2 linked regions of the Homo sapiens genome follow. The protein of the gene in region 2 interacts with the protein of the main gene of each other region in a pairwise test. Each region holds a gene or a part of one and is shown on either strand. Other genes may lie near its edges.

Region 1 (3,066 bases), on a different chromosome or scaffold from region 2:
CCAGACTAAACTCTAATTTGGGCTTTTCCAGCCGTTGGTCTGGTAGGTTTTCCTAAGTATTTAGTTCTCCACTGGCTTCAGGAAGAACTGTCTATTCTGCCCAGATTTTCCAGTTGCCCTTGGCAGAAGGATTGTTCTAAATTGCCTAATCTTCCAGTTCCGGAATGGGAAGTTCGTAGCCTTAAGAAAAAATACTTTTTGGTTTTAATTTATTTTTTAAAAAGCCTTTCTCCAAGCCAGCGCAGAGGAGCCTCTAGAGTGTTTCCATTAAAAAAAGAAATCTGAATCTAAGATATTTACTTACTGTTAGTCCATATTTCTCGATATGAGGTTTCATAATCATTACATTTACTTTTAGAAATGACAAAGCAGAAATGTATTATCACAGTCAATTCCGTGGGATATTATATTATAGATGCTACTTCAGGGTACAGCAGTGTCCATCTTTCATTAAATAAGAGAAATAAAAGTTACATATTTGAGTGAGCCTCAAGGATTATATTTTAAATAACTCAAAATATTTAAAGCATTTTAAGTATTTTTAATGACGTATATACATTTTATTTATCTTGCTTAATCTACTTTCAAAAGCTAAAATATTTCAAAGGATTATCTTAAATGTGACTCTACCTGGAAGTGCAAAACTCAGTTTAATAAATACTTTATTTTATAAATCAGGTCAATACACATACCCATCCAACAATACATACAAATTCGGCCTAATTATTTAAATTCAACTCCACATAAAATTAAGGTATTACAAAACATTTTTCTGGTAAATATATATATAAATGGGATAAAAACTAAGATATAAATTATATGTGTTAAATGTAAACATGAGGATAAAATATTTTTCAAATGAGCACTAAATTAAATTATTCATTTATTAGAATCTTCAAAATGTTCAAGTCTCATATTCCAATGTATTATGTTATAAACACTTTACATAGATCTTGTGCTTTATAAATATCTATTCTAGGCTACGTGTTTTACAAATATTCACTCATTTAATCCTCTTAGTGGTTGATACCACTCTCCCCATGTTACTGATGAGCAATCTGAGTTACAGAGAGGTAGGTAACGTGTACCTGATAAATAACCAGTAAGTGGTAGAACTGGGATTAGAATCAGACCTCCAAAGGCCAAAGTCTTTACTGCCAAGTTACATTAAAGCAAATAAATTGCAAACGTTTATTGAGAATACTTATGATATAAATGTTAAAAGGATGCTCTGGCCTTTGTTTCTAGAGACTATGTCTCTATAGCTATGGAGTAAGGCTCAGGCCAGGGATGGGAACAACTCACCTATGCCTTTTAACTCCTATCATCTCTGCTGGAAACCAGACCCATCCTCCAGCCAGCATGTTCTCACCCTGGTTTCCTGAAAGCATCATGGGCATTCCCTTTTGATCAGTTTGCTCTCCTCTTTTCCCCTCACTTGAATTCCCTTTGGTATCTTCAACACTAAGCACAGTGTTCTCCATCTGTCAGATATGCAGGAAAGGTGGTGACTGATGATTTATTAGTGGTTACAGTTGTTAGGTAAAATTGATGTTGTTTAATAAATTTGTACAGGACATGAACACTTACTGGAAAACTTTCACCAAATAATTTATAAAAGCATATCATTATTCTCAGTCTATAGAAACTGTCAGAAATTCATAAATGTAATAAGTACAACATTTTAGTACATTTCCCCTATAACAGTCTATTAGAAATGAAGACAAAAAGCTATAATTTTACATTCATCAGGTACCTTGTAAAGCATCACACAGACTTGGTAAATGATGTTATTTAAAATGACTTTTTTTTTAAGTTTTCAAATACTGAGTTTATGGAATAAGTATTTAAAATTATTTTAAACAATTCAAATTATAAATAGTAAATAACACAATTAAATACATATGTGTTTTATTCATGCTATATTTATAGCTATGTGCAAATAGTTGTGAACTTTATGTAGCCGTATTGACATAGACAAATGAGAATAGCAAACTCGGCCAAGCAGAGTCTCTCTCTGTTCCCTTACATCCTTCACTGCTTAGGTCCAGCTTTCCGTGGACTTAAGTCTGACTTAAAAGGAATTTCTTGCCAACAATGCAGTGCTTCTCTTGTCTTTTGTTTGTTTTGTTTTGTTTTAATCAGACCCTTGCTTATATTTATATCCACCTTTCCTATCACAGCAAATTGAGAGAGTAACTGTTTAACCATTTGTATAGATGCATGCATGTATAGAAAGATGACCTTCCAGCTGGAAAATTTACATCATTCTGAGGAATAAATTTAAAGGAAAATTATCTCATCCAAATACCACTTTTATTATTTTCATTTTTTCCTTAAGAAAAGGATTCATCGTGTATTAAAATGTTTGAGTTTTTTAGTCATACTTCTTAATATTTTAAATGTTTCAGACAAACCTCTGTTTTGCTCTATATTGCTCTGTTCCATTTTGCTTCCATATCCAAATTAATGTCTCCTTTTATTTTCTCTCCTGGTTATTATAATAACATGATTTGTCCTCTGAAATGTAGGTATGCTGTTTATTGTACCAAAAAAAAACACCATTATGTTTATTTTAAAGACATTTACTTTCTTGGCTTCAATAGAAGGCACAATTTTGAATCTCACTTCAGTGTTATTTGTAACAAATATTTTAAGGTATCAGTTGGCCATAATTAATCTAAAACCTACAAAAACATATATAGAACATAATGATTTTTGTATCAAGCTCCTTTATTGCACTGATGCCTATCTTAAAATGAAAATCTTTTTCTTGAGAGAAAACAGTCAGAGCAGGTGGGAGCAATAGATAGACCTGGCCGGTGGCAGCTGAGCCCCCTGGGGATGAGTGGGACTACCTCTGTCCACCCACAACCTTCACCATTGCTGTTATTGTTTGGAGTGGGGACAATCTTTGTTTTTGTTTTAAGAAATAGCATACACCTTGAAACTACAGATTTAACATTATGTAACATGGGTAGATTATTTTTATAATTAATCTATATTAAATTAAATTGGGGTTTGTGAGGATTTTTTATTTAATCCTCACAATAAACCAGGGTATAC
Region 2 (3,659 bases):
CCCTGCAGCTCTCCATCTGCTGGCTGGTCACCAAGCCCACTGGCTTCTTGGGCAGCTCCATGCGGCTGATGATGGCCTGAAAGCGCTTGTATGTAAGGGGTGGCTTCTGCCCATTCAGCTCAATGATCCTGGGGAGCCCAAAGCATAGCTAGTGTTACCCACATGGCCCTGTGATGTGGGTCCCTGCCCACCCAAAAAAGAACCCAGACTCTGAAGGCTTTGAGGGTGGCTTTCCTCATCCACTCACAGGTCCCATGCCTGAGTGGAAAGGAGGGGGCAAGGGAGGCCGCATCTCCATTTTACCGAGAGGGAAAATAAAGCCCAGAGAGCTGAAGCAGGTGCCTCAGTAATGGAGCAAGGCAGGGCCAGAGCTGGGACTCAATTCCGGGCTCCCTGGTGTTGACGCAGAGCCGCCTAAAGACAGAGACTGACAAAATCTCTAATCACAGAAAAATCCCTACTAGCCTGCTTGGCACTTGGCCTATCTGTCCAAGCTAAGGGAATCCCCATAGGCCTCTACCACCCATGTAAGCCCTGGAGAAAGTTCTTTGATAAGAGCTGAAGACATGTTTTTTTTTTTTTTTTTTTTAACTCTAACATCATAAGGAATAGCAGACATGTTCCTTTCTTGGAAAATCATCCCCTTCTTAGCCTCCATTTATTAGAACATTGAACAGAGAGGTGGAAGACAGCTTATCCTCCCAAATTCAGAGACTGGAGCTAGAGTTCATAGCCACAACTGATACTTAAAGAGAGTCTTGTAGTTTACAAAGTATTTTTCATGACCAGGGAAAACATAACTGCACTCATGCAAGAAGGAAGGAGTATCAGAGGGCGAAGAAGAGAACGGAGGCTGTTTATATAAGGATGAATTGGGATGGTATGGAGCCACATTCCCGGGGCTCTTCTTGGCCAAGAAGTAGCTTACGCAAGGCCCATCTGGCTGGGTGAGTTCATTTCTCAGTTTGCTCTCCCCACGTTAGTGGAGATATATGGTCGGCTGCTGCCTCTGCTATGCCTCCCTCTCCTCTGGCACGCAGCAGGAGGAGGATCTCCACACCCAGCCTCTCCTCCTGAGGGCCCGGCTCACGTGCACAGCTGTGTGACCTGGCTTCTTGGCAGCCAGCACTGGGTTGGGAAGTGGGGGTGGGGAGCGGCGGCGGCTGCTGGCTTGGCAGCAGCAGCAACAGCAGCAGCAGCAGCAGGAGGGTGACAGCTCTGGCATGGCAGGGAAGGGGAGGAGAGGATTTCCTCCTAGAATCTCTGAAAGCACAGAGGCTGTCACCAGGGGAGGAGGCTCCTCTGTAGTTAGCAGCTCCCTGCAGGGATCTCTAGAGCCCTCCCCGCCACCAAGCAACATGGCCTGGAAACCCAGATAGTCATAGAACCTGGGAACTCTTTTTTTTTTTTTTTTGACACAGGATCTTGCTCTGTCACCCAGGCTGGAGTGACGTGGCATGATCACAGCTCATGGCAGCCTCAAGCCCCTGGGCTCAAGTGATCCTCCAACCTCAGCCTCTTCAGTAATTGGGACTACAGGCATGTCCCACCATGCATGGCTAATATATTTATTTTTAGTAGAGACGGGGGTCTCACTATGTTGCCCAGGCTGATCTTGAACTCATGGACTCATGTGATCCTCTCAAAGTGCTGGGATTACAGGCATGAGCCAGCATGCCCAGCCTAGGAACTCATCTTAGGTACAAAAACTGGACCTGTGTGAACAGAGGTCTGTTGGAGGGGTAACAGACAGGGTCCACTGAGGTCAGAGGGCAGCTGTTGAGCAGGATGGAAGTGGGAATATGAGGCACAGGTGGGACTCGGGCATACTAGGAGCAGATTTGTAAATACCCTGAGTGTGGGTCCTCACTGCTTCCATGCTTTGGGCCTAACAAGCCTCTCTGCCACCTCAATGGGGTAAAGCTCTTTGTGACCTGTTCTACAGGTCCTGACTCTGGCCTATTCTCCTCCAGCTTCTAGAAGATGCCATGCCTCCTGGGTCAGGTAGCCCTAATGCTGAACCTCTCTGAGTTCCGCTCAGCAGGGGCCCAAATTACTAACTCTCACAATTGGTAACCTGATCCCTGGGCCCCATCTCTTACCTGTCCAGGTCATAGAGGGTATGAGAATTCTCCGTCACTACTTCCACACCAGCCTCCTTGGCCATCTTCATGATGGCTGCATCCCGTTCTTTCCCAAAGGGTTCAGAGTCATATTCAAAGGTCAAGCGGGTCACTCCCCATTCCTGTGGGGAGAGGATCTGTTATGCTCAACACTGTGTTTGGGGAGGAGGGGGAAGCTGGACTCTCAGTTCCTTCCTGGGAGAGAACAGAGCTAGTCTAGAGACCTATCTGATGGGCAGCAGAAAAAACTAGGAACAGGGATTTGATCTGGAAAGCAAACAAGCTGAGGTTCAGAAAGTTTGAGGAGGGCAGGCAGTGTGGCGAAGCCAACAGCACAGCAACAGTGGAGTTGGGAGAGAGGTAGGCAGCCTTGTGCACTTGCTGTGTCCTTGAGGTAGGAGAATGCAGCAGGAGGCCATAAATACAACGCTCCTGGGAAACCCCCAGTCCCAGAGAGTGGCACTGACTCACAGGTGGGACAGGACCACAGCCTTCTGCCTGCTCAGCAAGCTTTTCCCAGAGCTCCTCACAGCCCTGCAGACTTGTGGCCTAGTTTTCTTGGCAGAGTTGTGCTATGTGAAGTGTCTTAATTGTTTCCACAGCAACACTCCTGAGGCCAATAGCAAACAGAGCTAATAGGTTCCAGCCCTGAGAGAGTCAGGAAAGGGGAAGCGATCCTTAGTCTGGAGGTCAGAGGAAACTGACCAGAGGGGCTACATGTTGAAAAGGAGGAAGTTCTTTCCTAAGCCTTTAGTCATTTCTGGTAGGAATTTCTAGATCTCATAGCAAGCTGGCCCAGTGAATGGTTGTACAGTCAACCCACAGAAAGCCCTAGAGCATGCAACTTGCAAGAAGAAAAACACATTCTCCAAAGTCTCTGGTCATAGTCTCTGAAAGCTCTGAACCACAGGGGCAAATGTCCTAGCCATGCACAGGCTGGTCTGGTCCTGACTCAGCCCTGCCCGGGGACTGGGTCCTTAGCAGGGCCAGTTATCCCTCATTCGAGGATATCAGCATTAAACATTGATTGAGCCCTTGCTATATGCCAGGTACCATGCTTATAGTTCATATAGGTTACATCACTGAATACTCATTGTAACCTGTGAATAACAATATTATTAAATTACATTTTCTCCAAGAAGCCTTCTTGACCTCCTCCTTCAATATAATTCTTCTGCACCTTGTCTTTTTTCCACTGCAGCATGTATTATATGACAATGATACACTTGCCTGTTTCCCCTATTAGTGTGAACTCTCAGAGCAGAAACCATGTTGTCTCACTCATCATCATTACCCTTATACCTAGTATGGGGCCTAGTACCTAGCAGAAGCTCAATAAAAATACATTACATGACTGAATGGATGACCTAGCTATATCTCTGGGATATAAGTGGGTTGGCCTCTGAGTTGCTGGGGGAGAAAAAGGGCAATGTCGAGGGGAGAAGGGAGGCAAATGTATTTATATGGTATGGTGGGTAAGGATACAGCTCTAGAGTCAGAATCCAAGATCGTCACTTATTAACTTCACAACCAATG

Evidence for each region. The genes of interacting proteins can lie anywhere in the genome.
Region 1: the proteins of CRY2 (region 2) and VWC2 interact in binary tests that used the Homo sapiens proteins (3 or more experiments, as listed by UniProt).

Annotation. Positions count from the first base shown.
Region 1 is NC_000007.14:49,919,530-49,922,595, reverse strand, and holds the end of VWC2 (brorin precursor), read right to left. Parts: 3' UTR 646-3,066; downstream 1-645. UniProt on the Homo sapiens protein: BMP antagonist which may play a role in neural development. Promotes cell adhesion.
Region 2 is NC_000011.10:45,857,317-45,860,975, reverse strand, and holds part of CRY2 (cryptochrome-2), read right to left. Parts: intron 2,246-3,659; coding exon 2,103-2,245; intron 129-2,102; coding exon 1-128. UniProt on the Homo sapiens protein: Transcriptional repressor which forms a core component of the circadian clock.